Linked DNA regions of Homo sapiens. The protein of the gene in region 3 purifies or fractionates together with the protein of the main gene of each other region. This does not show direct contact. Each region holds a gene or a part of one and is shown on either strand. Other genes may lie near its edges. The genes, in order: COP1, POTEF and DMC1.

Region 1 (3,656 bases), on a different chromosome or scaffold from region 3:
TATTTCCCTGCCATTTTGTGGAGGTAGTAGAATTTCACAATATTAAATTTTATTTTTAATAAATAAATTAGTATATAATTTGAATTACTGAAGCAATTGGGTGATGACAAGGGGATGGAATACATATAACAGAACCACTGAATTATCATTACTTTTCCCCAAATCCATACCTAATCCCCCTCCCCAAATATCTCTCTGAATTATAAAACCCCAATACACATTCCTCATATCACAAAAGAGGTTAAATAAATAAATAAATAAATAATCTCCTTTCCTTCAGCGTTATTCACTCCTCTCTTGCTGATCATTTTTATATAAGCTCCAAAACAAGCTATTTGAAAGCAAGTACAAGATCATACTCGCTTTTACAGAACTTGCAGCCTAAACACAGTTGTTACATAACCAGCTGGAAATCTAATTAGCCCAAAGGTAGTAAAAGTTGAAATGAATCATCACATACATTATTCCTCAATATGATTTAAGCATCTTTTCTAGAGGTTTAGCGATAAGAATTCTCACTGATCTACAATTAATTACACAATAATACCTAATATTCATTAATCATTCACTTACTAAAACATTTTGCATGTATTACCTCATTTAGTCCTCATAACAACCTGTGATATATGTATTATTATTATCTACATTTTACAGATGAGAAAATGAAGATTAGAGGTGAGGTAAATTGCCCAAAGTTAGTCAATCTGTAAGTGGCTGAGGTGGGATTCAAACACAAGGTAGTCTGGTTTCAGAGCTGGTGCTAATAATTACTATGCTTTATTACAGATCAAAGCTCTTAATGTAAAACTCAAAGTGTAAAGGCTAAAGGTTTAAAGGTTTAAAATCTATGTGTATGAATGTATCTTCAATATCTATGTATGTGTGTTTCTTCTCTCAAAATGCCTAGCTAGTGCTCTGTATCTATTAAGCATTCATTTAATGCACAAAATACAAACACCTACATACAAAAATACAAACATCCATTTTCTTAATATCCATTCACAGAACAGTTAATGATTAATGATTTATTAAGAAGCTTGCTGAACTGATGATGGTAAGTAAGAAAAAGACACATTAAGAATATTTCAGGCTGGGTTCGGTGGCTCATGCCTGCAATCCCAGCACTCTGAGAGACCGAGGTGGGAGGATCCCTTGAGTCCAGGAGTTTGAGACCAGCCTGGCAACATAGTGAGACCCGATCGCTACAAAAAAATGAAACAATTAGTGAGGCATAGTGATGGGTTCTTGTCTCCAGAGACTTGGGAGGCTGAGGTGGGAGGACTGCTTGAACCCAGGAATTTGAAGCTGCAGTAAGCCATGACTGTGCCACTGCACTCCAGCCTGGGTGACACAGCAAGACCCTGTCTTAAAAAACAACTACAACAACAACAAGGACTATTTCCCTTAAAGACACACATTGATACGCCCACTTTTCTTTACAGCTTTAAATGCTTCCTTAATTTTATATAATTTTTTAAAGAATTAAAATTCTTTTTTTTTTTTTTTTTTACAGAGATGGGGTCTCACTATGTCGCCTGGGCTGGTCTTGAACTCCAGGGCTCAAGCAATCCTCCCACCTCAGCCTCCCAAAGTGCTGGGATTACAGATTTCAGGCGTCAGACATGGTGCCCAGCCAATTTAAAAAAAAAATTTATTCAGTTAAGTGTCACTGACTAGGGCACAATTCAGCAAATGTTCCCTCCAGTAAAGTATGATACTATAGCAATGCAGTAGATTTATTTGTACAACCTCAATTGAACTGCTGCCTCAGCTACTACTTGCTGCCATGTGGATTTTAATGCACCATAACTATAATGATGACAACTATTCATCTATCCCAACTCAATTTATACCCATAGTCTCATGTCACTGAAGGAGAAATACTACTTTATCTGGTAAAGGACAGAGTTATTATCAGAACTGAAATCCTGTTTTTAATTTAGGAGGTTTTGGTATAGCTGAGACTTCAAGTGAACTAGTTATCACTAAATACTTTTTCTCCGCCTACTCATATACATAGCTAATCAACACCATTCCAATGTTGTGCCAGTAAAAGTATGCCATTACTAAACTATTAGTTTTAACATATATAATACGTTTAAACACTAACCTATCAAAATAATAGCTTAAATACATTACAGGGAGAAAACTGACACATAAGTAAAAATGCTGTCAAAAGAATTAAGGGCCGGGCGCGGTGGCTCACGCCTGTAATCCCAGCACTTTGGGAGGCCGAGGCGGGTGGATCATGAGGTCAGGAGATCGAGACCATCCTGGCTAACAAGGTGAAACCCCGTCTCTACTGAAAATACAAAAAATTAGCCAGGCGCGGTGGCGGGCGCCTGTAGTCCCAGCTACTCGGGAGGCTGAGGCAGGAGAATGGCGTGAACCCAGGAAGCGGAGCTTGCAGTGAGCCGAGATTGCGCCATTGCAGTCCGCAGTCCGGCCTGGGCAACAGAGCGAGACTCCGTCTCAAAAAAAAAAAAAAAAAAAAAAAAAGAATTAAGATGATGACCTAAATATGTCTATTATTTCTTCTGCTGGTATCCTGTTATTCAAGACAGCTCTCTCTCTTTTTTCTACATGTTATTATTTAGTGACATTAGCTAACTCTTAACTCTCATATTAAAAAGTTAACTTTTTGTTTTGATTTCATTGCTATTATTTTCTTACATTTTGGTTATGTTTTGTTTTTAATATATTAAGGTATCAAGAACCTGTAGAGTATGTTTTTAAAAATATTTTGGGGGTAACAAGATCCTTTTATACTGTAAAAATAGATTTTAATAGAAATATTAATCAAAAAGTATAAAGAATAATATTATTTCTAGAAAATTTTGATTAAAAGGGAAAGAAAGACAAACAGGTCCCCCCCCTCAAACCACCTTTTTTAGTGGAAGAACTTCCACATCACTAAGACTCAGGATTTAAGGACTTCTAGATACTGAAACATTTGCTCCCTATCTCTGACATATTTAATCATATATATTCTCAAACATGAACATAATGAGATTCTAAAAACAGATCATGAACTAACTGAAATGAACACTGTAATTTTCAGGTGCAGAAAGCTTTCTAGAACTAATACAAAACAGATGACCTCTTATATTAACAGTATGATATTTCAACTACTTTTATTATGAAATCTGATAACCCAAGCAAAAGTACTTCAAAAGTTAAACAGTGACTAGTTAGGCTGAGACTAAATAAAAGGTAAACTAATTAACTGAAATGTTGCTTATGCAATTAAATTCAAAAACAAACTTTAAGTCTTACTACTGCTATACAACGTTCATTTCTGCCATCCACTGTCAGCAGTAATAATTAAAACAAGAGATTTATAAAAATTTACTGCATGACAAATTCAATTTCACAGAATTTGTTTTTAATTTCAACATACAAGTATACTTTTGAAAAATCGTGTTTCTGGGGACATAAATTGCATTTTTCTTTCACATTTTGAAACATTTCAACTGTTAAAAGAGTGATTTATATCAACAGCTGAAATACGTAATTCAGCTGTAGGAAACTAGCTGTATTCTTTGTCAAAAATGTCATTAGTCAAGTGATTAAGCAGCAAGGCAAGAAACTGCACAGGACAGCTGATTAATGCATACTGCCAGTACAATGCGGCACAAAGCAATGAAAGCCGTCAA
Region 2 (3,656 bases), on a different chromosome or scaffold from region 3:
TCTGTTAATAAGGTTGCTGATTTTATTACAATAAATTTTAAGAATCTATTAAAATTTTTTTTTTTTTTTTTTTCACATGGAGTCTCGCTCTGTCACCCAGGCTGGAGTGTAGTGGTGGATGTCGGCTCACTGCAAGCTCCCTCTCCTGGGTTCATGCCATTCTCCTGCCTCAGCCTCCCGAGTAGCTGGGACTACAGGCACCCACCACCACGCCCAGCTAAGTTTTTGTATTTTTACTAGAGACGGGGTTTCACCATGTTAGCCAGGATGGTCTCGATCTCCAGACCTCGTGATCCACCTGCCTCAGCCTCTCAAAGTGCTGGGATTACAGGCGTGAGCCACCTTGCCTGGCCAAAAGATTCTTAAAAAAACAATCTACTGATTCTCAAAGCCTAGTCTGAAAGGTAATTTCATTTGGACTATCTAATATTATTAAGGCAAAAAAAACACAACATTAAACAAAAGTTTAAATTTAAAAGTTTCCATGCCTCTGGCTGGCCATTTTCACTGCCTTTAAGCCTTTGTGACTCTTCCTCTGATGTCAGCTTTAAGTCTTGTTCTGTTGAAAAATCCATACATTCAGTTAAAATCAACCACTTAAAACAGTTAAAAACTATTGCCTTTTAAAAACAGATTTGAGACATTTCATTTTATTTCATAAATTGAGTGTTTCATCTTTTGTGAAATTGTCATTTAAGAAATAATTCTCAAAAACTTCAAAAACCCACTTGGGGAGATAGCAGATGTCACCAGATTGAAGACAAACAAACATGTCAAAAATTCCCTCACAAATTCATCCACCCAACATCCATGAACAAAACCACCAGAAACACAGCTTTAAAATACAGTAGAAACATATAAGGTGACACAGTGTACTGTTCTCCACTTCCTAATAGTACCTTATAAATGATTTCCAAAATCACTGCTGACACCTTTATTAGTGTACAACATCTTCCTAATATCTAAAATGTTTCTCTCCACTATTCTGACAAATTTATTTTCTTTTTTTCTTTTTTCTTTTTTTTTTTTTATGAGCTAGAGTCTTCCTCTGTCACCAGGCTGGAATGCAGTGGTGTGATCAGCTCACTGCAACCTCCGCGACCCTGGTTCAAGTGATTCTCCTGCTTCAGTCTCCTGAGTAACTGTGATTACAGGCAAGCACCACCACACCCAGCTGATTTTTGTATTTTTAGTAGAGATGGGGTTTCACCATTGGACAGGATGGTCTCGATCTCCTGACCTCGTGATTCCCTCTGAAAGTGCTGGGATTACAGGTGTGAGCCACCACACCTGGCCTTATTTTCATCTTTTGAAACAATGCTATATGAAGTCTTCCTTGATTCTGCATGTCTTTCCCCAAATAAACAGGTACCTCCTTCCTTGAGGCTGCCTTAGTACTTTACTGATTTTTCTACTGCATCTTGACCACCTAAACTGTACATTATTCCTCCACGTCTGTCCCCTCTGCTCCAAGACTGCAGGGGAGAGTCTTGCACATCATCTTTGTAAAAACAGTCTTTGTTTTACTCAGAAATATTTTATTGAGTCCTGCTAAATACATGCTAGGCATTAGGGTTTAAAAAGAATTAAAATAAAGCATGTCAGAGATGGCTTTTCTAGAACACATGCCCAAGCAGAGACTTAAATATTGAGACTAGCCAGATTAAAAGGTGTAGAGGGCAGGAAAGGGTGACGGCATGCCACGCAGCAGCAAGAGCGGGAGCGACTCCTGAAAGAGTGAAAGTATTTGCCTACAATAGAAGGATGAGTGAGTAGGGCACTGCCAGCAGTTCAGTAATGCCAGAGACAGGGCACACAGGGAAAAGGGCTAAAGATGGAGAGTGGGGCAGAAGTCAGATTATGAAAGCATTATGTGTAATTTTAAGATGCTTGAACATTAATGTTCAAAAGTGGTCCCGGGTCCTATCTGCATTTAGATATAGATCATTTCAATGCCAAAACCAATATTCCTAGTGAACAATTATTCATTAAGACAAGGTGACAGATAGCTCATGTGGACACAGCTGAGATGATACAATGTAGCAAATTCTAAACAATTCTCATGAACACTTGGAAAGTCAGTTCTATAATAAAGTCATACAAATTATAATAAATCAGTAAATATTTGGTTTCGGAAGATGCTTTGTAAAGTTATAATGCATATGAATACAATTAACAGTCGTGAATTCAGAGCTGTGAAAATAAATCAAAGAAACCACATTGTGTTTGAGTCAGCAATCTTTAGATTTCTATCCAGTCTTCCCATCCAGTCCATAAATTCTAAGTATAATCCTGGTACTCACTCTCAAGTTTACGTTAAATACTATCCCATTACAAAAAAACACTCTTTCTCTTACTTCTTTTCATTATGTCCTGCTAAAAAGATTCTGATTGGCTGCAGGCGGCAAGAGGGAAAAACAAAAAGCACATTTTGCAGAAAATGATTATTTAGAAGTCAGAACTATGACATGAAGCCAAGCAGGGCACTCTAGGACCGAATTTGCTGTGCTGCCTTCATACGCTCCTTGCTCTTTCTTTTCTGGCAGCTGTGACTCACACAGGTCATGGAGAGTATCATTCCCTAAGAGGAACAACTCCGATATTCATCTTTATCTATTAAGTTCATCTGTCCCAATTCTGTGTTCTGTGGATGCTGACTTTCTGTCACGGACGATGATGCACATGGACATTTATTACTGACTTTCAGATTCTTGGATCTTTGACAAGTCTTATTACTTAGAGTCAAACTAGTAGGATGCGAGTTATAAATGCTGATTATCCAATTACCTACTCAAAATACCCTACACGAATATTCCATTAAACATGCATCGAAAAACATTAGTCATTCCTGCTGACCTGCTGCTCTTTGCTCTCCTGTATTCACCAGAAAATTTCCTACTCCTTCCTCATGTCCAGGTTAAATACTAGTGTGCAATCTGGAAACCTGTACATCATCTGAGATTTCTCTCTGTCCCCCAAGCCTTTCTCATTCAATTATCACTAAATCATATTGACTATACCTCTCTTCTGCCTCTGTTTTATATTCCCACTGCCACTGGGAACACAAACATTTACAAAATGACTTCTATTTAAAAGAAAACTGCCAACTATTAATGTTATTTCTTACAGGAAAAAAAATTAAGCAAAACAAGTGAAAAAGGCATAACGAAGGCCAACATAGTAAAATGAGTAACTGAGATTTCTAACGTTATTTATTTTACCATGGACGGGTGAAAACCTTGTAATACATTGATGCTACTCCAAGGATGTGTGACATGGAAACTATAGCTGACTACTGCAAAAGCTTCCTTTGTCTCCTGGTTTCTTTGCATGATTATCTCCCATCAATCCCAGGAAACTATAGGCCACAGGCCAAATCCAATCTGCATTATGGTTTTGTAAATAAAGTTTTATAGGAGCTCAGTCATGCCTGTTTGCTTACATATAATCATGGTGGCTTTCACACTACAACAGCAGACAACAGCACGGTTAAGTAGATATGACAGAGACCACATAGTCCAAAATATTTCCCACCTGGTCCTTTAAAGAAAAAGCTTGCTAACCCATTTTACACCATAACCAGAATGCCTTAATACTCAAATTTAATCTTGTGGCTCCCCTGCTCAAATTTCTCCAATGAGCCCCCTCCAGCACAC
Region 3 (3,656 bases):
AAAAAAATCTTTTTTTTTTTTGTTTTTGAGACGGAGTCTTGTTCTGTCACCCAGGCTGGAGTGCAGTGGCACGATCTTGGCTCACTTCAACCTCTGCCTCCCAGGTTCAAGTGATCCTCCTGTCTTAGCCTCCCAAGAAGCTAGGACTACAGGTGCACACCACCATGCCTGGCTAGTTTTTTTATTTTTAGTAAAGACAGGGTTTTGCCATGTTGTCCAGGCTGGTCTTGAACTCCTGACCTCAGGTGATCCTCCCACCTCGGCCTCCCAAAGTGCTGAGATTACAGTGAGCCACTGCCCACTGCACCCAGCCTTTAAAAGATTTTTTTAAAAGCTTTTTGGCTAGGCAAGGGGGCTCACACATGTAATCCTAGCACTTTGGGATGCTGAGGTGGGAGGATCGCTTGAGGCCAGGAGTTCGAGACCAGCCTGGCCAACATGGCAAAACCCTGTCTCTTCTAAAAATAAAAAAATTAGCCAGGCGTGGCGATGTGTGCCTCCCAGCTGCTCGGGAGGCTGAGGCTGGAGCATCACCTGAGCCTGAGAGGCAGAGGTTGCAGTGAGCAGAGATGGTGCCACTGCATTGCAGCTTGGGTGACAGAGTGAAACCTTGTCTCTTAAAAAAAAAAAACACACACACACTTTAAAAAAGCATTATCATGAATTTAGATTTGTTTTGCTTTGTTTGAGACAGTCTTGCTCTGTCTCCCAGGCTGGAGTGCAGTGGTGTGTATTTAGGATTATTTTGATTGCTTATTCAGACACATAATGCTCAAAATTTGTTACGGTGGCAACAAACCTTTGTTTGATTTATCTATTTTTATTATCCTACTTTAGCTCTCTGTGTGTTTCTATTCACTGCCGTCTTTCAGAGTCATCAATAGTTATGTGCACAAACACTTCAACAAATTCTGAATATGCCTAGTGTGAACTGAAATTCTTTTTCTTCAAACAGGAGACTTCTCCCATAGTGCCTCTGATAAATATATCTCATGTATATCCTGTAGAAAGATGACTTTTTTGTTTTTATGAATGGTGTTTATTATACTGATAAGCTGCAATATAAGTTTTTATTTCCCTAGGATCTATTTCTTATTGTCCTCCCATACCCCTTTAGCCCTAGACCAAAGAGAAGCCCAAAGTACTGCTGAAAATGGTTAAAGTATTGCTTTATTCTATAAAGAACTAGAGAAAAATAGATTCTGGTTACCAAGTGATATTTACAATTATGAAGTCATATACACTGTGCAATAAAGTGATTTTTTTTTTGAGATGCAGTTTTGCTCTTGTTGCACAAGCTGGAGTGCAATGGCATGATCTTGGCTCACTGCAACCTCCGCCTCCCAGGTTCAAGTGATTCTCCCACCTCAGCCTCCCGAATAGCTGGGATTACAGGTGCACGCCACCACGCCCAGCTAATTTTTTGTATTTTTAGTAGAGACGAGGCTTCATCATGTTGGCCAGGCTGGTCTTGAACTCCTGACCTCAGGTGATCCAACCATCTAGGCCTCCCAAAGTGTTGGGATTACAGGCATGAGCCACTGCGCCCAGTAATAAAGTGATTTGTGATATATTTGTGCCCACATAAAGACTAATGATTTTTAAATTCTTTTCTTTTTTCTTTTTTCTTTTTGAGATAGAATCTTGCTCTGTTTCCCAGACAGGAGTACAATGGCGCGATCTCGGCTTACTACAACCTCCACCTCCCAGGTTCAAGTGATTCTTCTGCCTCAGCCTCCGGAGTAGCTGAGATTACAGGTGTGCGCCACCACACCCGGCTAATCTCTGTATTTTTAGTAGAGACGGGGTTTCACTATGTTAGTCAGGCTGGTCTCCATCTCCTGACCTCGTGATCCGCCTGCCTCAGCCTGCTAAAGTGCTGGAATTACAGGCGTGAGCCACCGTGCCCGGCCTTGAAATTATTTTCTATTCTACGCTCTAACCCTCTTTATATTAACCTCTGTGAAATAAAAAGTAGAATATTGGGGCTTACGTCATAGTTGCTCCTGGATCGGCAGTCATTTGATTGGTCACAAAAACAGCCACGTTATATTCTGCATCAAGAGATAAAATTTTAAAACTATGAGAAAGGCAATATAGATATTTAAAAGTTCATTGTTTAGATTTCAGAGTTTAGACATATTGCATCATGAATTTATTTTATAAATAACATCATATTCCTATTTTTCATTGACAACAGAAATTATTTGTTATTATTATTATTAAGGTTAGAATAAATATTTTTGGTTTAAAAAGAGTTGTAAAGCCGGGCTCAGCGGCTCATGCCTGTAATCCCAGCACTTTGGGAGGCTGAGGCGGACAGATCACGAGGTCAGGAGCTCGAGACCAGCCTGGCCAACATGGTGAAACCCCGTCTCTACTAAATATACAAAAAATTGGCCTGGTGTGATGGCAGGTGCCTGTAATTCCAGCTACTCAGGAGGCTAAGGAGGAAGAATTGCTTGAACCTGGGAGGCGGAGGTTGCAGTGAGCCGAGATCGCACCACTGCACTCCAGCCTGGGCAACAGAGCGAGATACCATCTCAAAAAACAAAAAAAAAACAAAGAGTTGTATTCTCATAAAGGTAATTTTATTTAAAAAAAAATCGCTGCCTCCTGACATTATATTCCAAGCTTCTCTGCAAAGTATACTTGACAAACATAGTCACAGATGCCATTTTATTTTAAAGATATACCTTCTGAGATTTTTTGGAGTCGTGACAACATCTGGGCCAATTTTTGCTGCCGTTCGGCCAACTCCCCACGGCCACTGAAATCCACTCGAAAAAGTGCCATTATTGAATCGATAATCTACACAGGATTAATGTAAAAATAAACATGCATTTGGAAATTGAAGGAAGACGTTATTTGAATAGAGATCAATAGAAGAAAAATATTATGCTAAATAGCTCTGTGAAAGCAATATTTAAAAGCTTGTACCAATAGCTTGAAGATGCCAGCTTCTTCATGGAACTTTGCTGCTACATAATCAAGTAGCTCCATCTGATGTTCACCTGATGGGAAATGCAGTGAGAAAATGTTATAAAAGTTGAAAGAAGCAGAGGCTAAGATCATTCATATTCTTGGGAGCCAGGCAAAATAAATTCCTTGAAGGATTTTCTTAATTATTGATGACTTTATTAAATATTATTGCAGCAGGGCATGGTGGCTCATGCCTATAATCCCAACACTTTGGGAGGCCGAGGCAGGTGGATCACTTGGGGTCAGGAGTTCAAGACCAGCCTTGCCAACATGGTGAAACCCTGACTCTACTAAAAAATACAAAAATTAGCTGGGTGTGGTGGCGTGTGCCTGTAATCCCAGCGACTTGGGAGGCTGAGGTAGGAGAATCACTTGAAGCCAGGAGTTGGAGGTTGCAGTGAGCCGAGATCATACCACTGCACTCCAGCCTGAGTGACAGAGCGAGACTCCATCTCAAAAAAAAAAAAAAATTATTGCATATTCTGCCTTAGCATGTATACCAAATGCTACATTATCCAAAAAGAATGTTACTCTTAATTTCAAAGACAAAGAATAATAAATAATTTGAGGGCACTTTATTATCTAAGGACTTACCAGATGATAAAATTTATAGACTGAGTAAATTAATTTAGAGAAAAATAAAATAGAAAAAAAGTATCAAAATGTTGTATCCC

What was found.
Region 1: the proteins of DMC1 (region 3) and COP1 purify together in Homo sapiens (affinity purification with mass spectrometry; 2 studies listed by BioGRID and IntAct, with this or other methods). This does not show direct contact.
Region 2: the proteins of DMC1 (region 3) and POTEF purify together in Homo sapiens (affinity purification with mass spectrometry; 3 studies listed by BioGRID and IntAct, with this or other methods). This does not show direct contact.

Annotation. Positions count from the first base shown.
Region 1 is NC_000001.11:176,046,705-176,050,360, forward strand, and holds part of COP1 (E3 ubiquitin-protein ligase COP1), read right to left. Parts: intron 1-3,656. UniProt on the Homo sapiens protein: E3 ubiquitin-protein ligase that mediates ubiquitination and subsequent proteasomal degradation of target proteins.
Region 2 is NC_000002.12:130,087,579-130,091,234, forward strand, and holds part of POTEF (POTE ankyrin domain family member F), read right to left. Parts: intron 560-3,656; coding exon 489-559; intron 1-488.
Region 3 is NC_000022.11:38,535,599-38,539,254, forward strand, and holds part of DMC1 (meiotic recombination protein DMC1/LIM15 homolog), read right to left. Parts: intron 3,015-3,656; coding exon 2,941-3,014; intron 2,812-2,940; coding exon 2,697-2,811; intron 2,055-2,696; coding exon 1,994-2,054; intron 1-1,993. UniProt on the Homo sapiens protein: Participates in meiotic recombination, specifically in homologous strand assimilation, which is required for the resolution of meiotic double-strand breaks.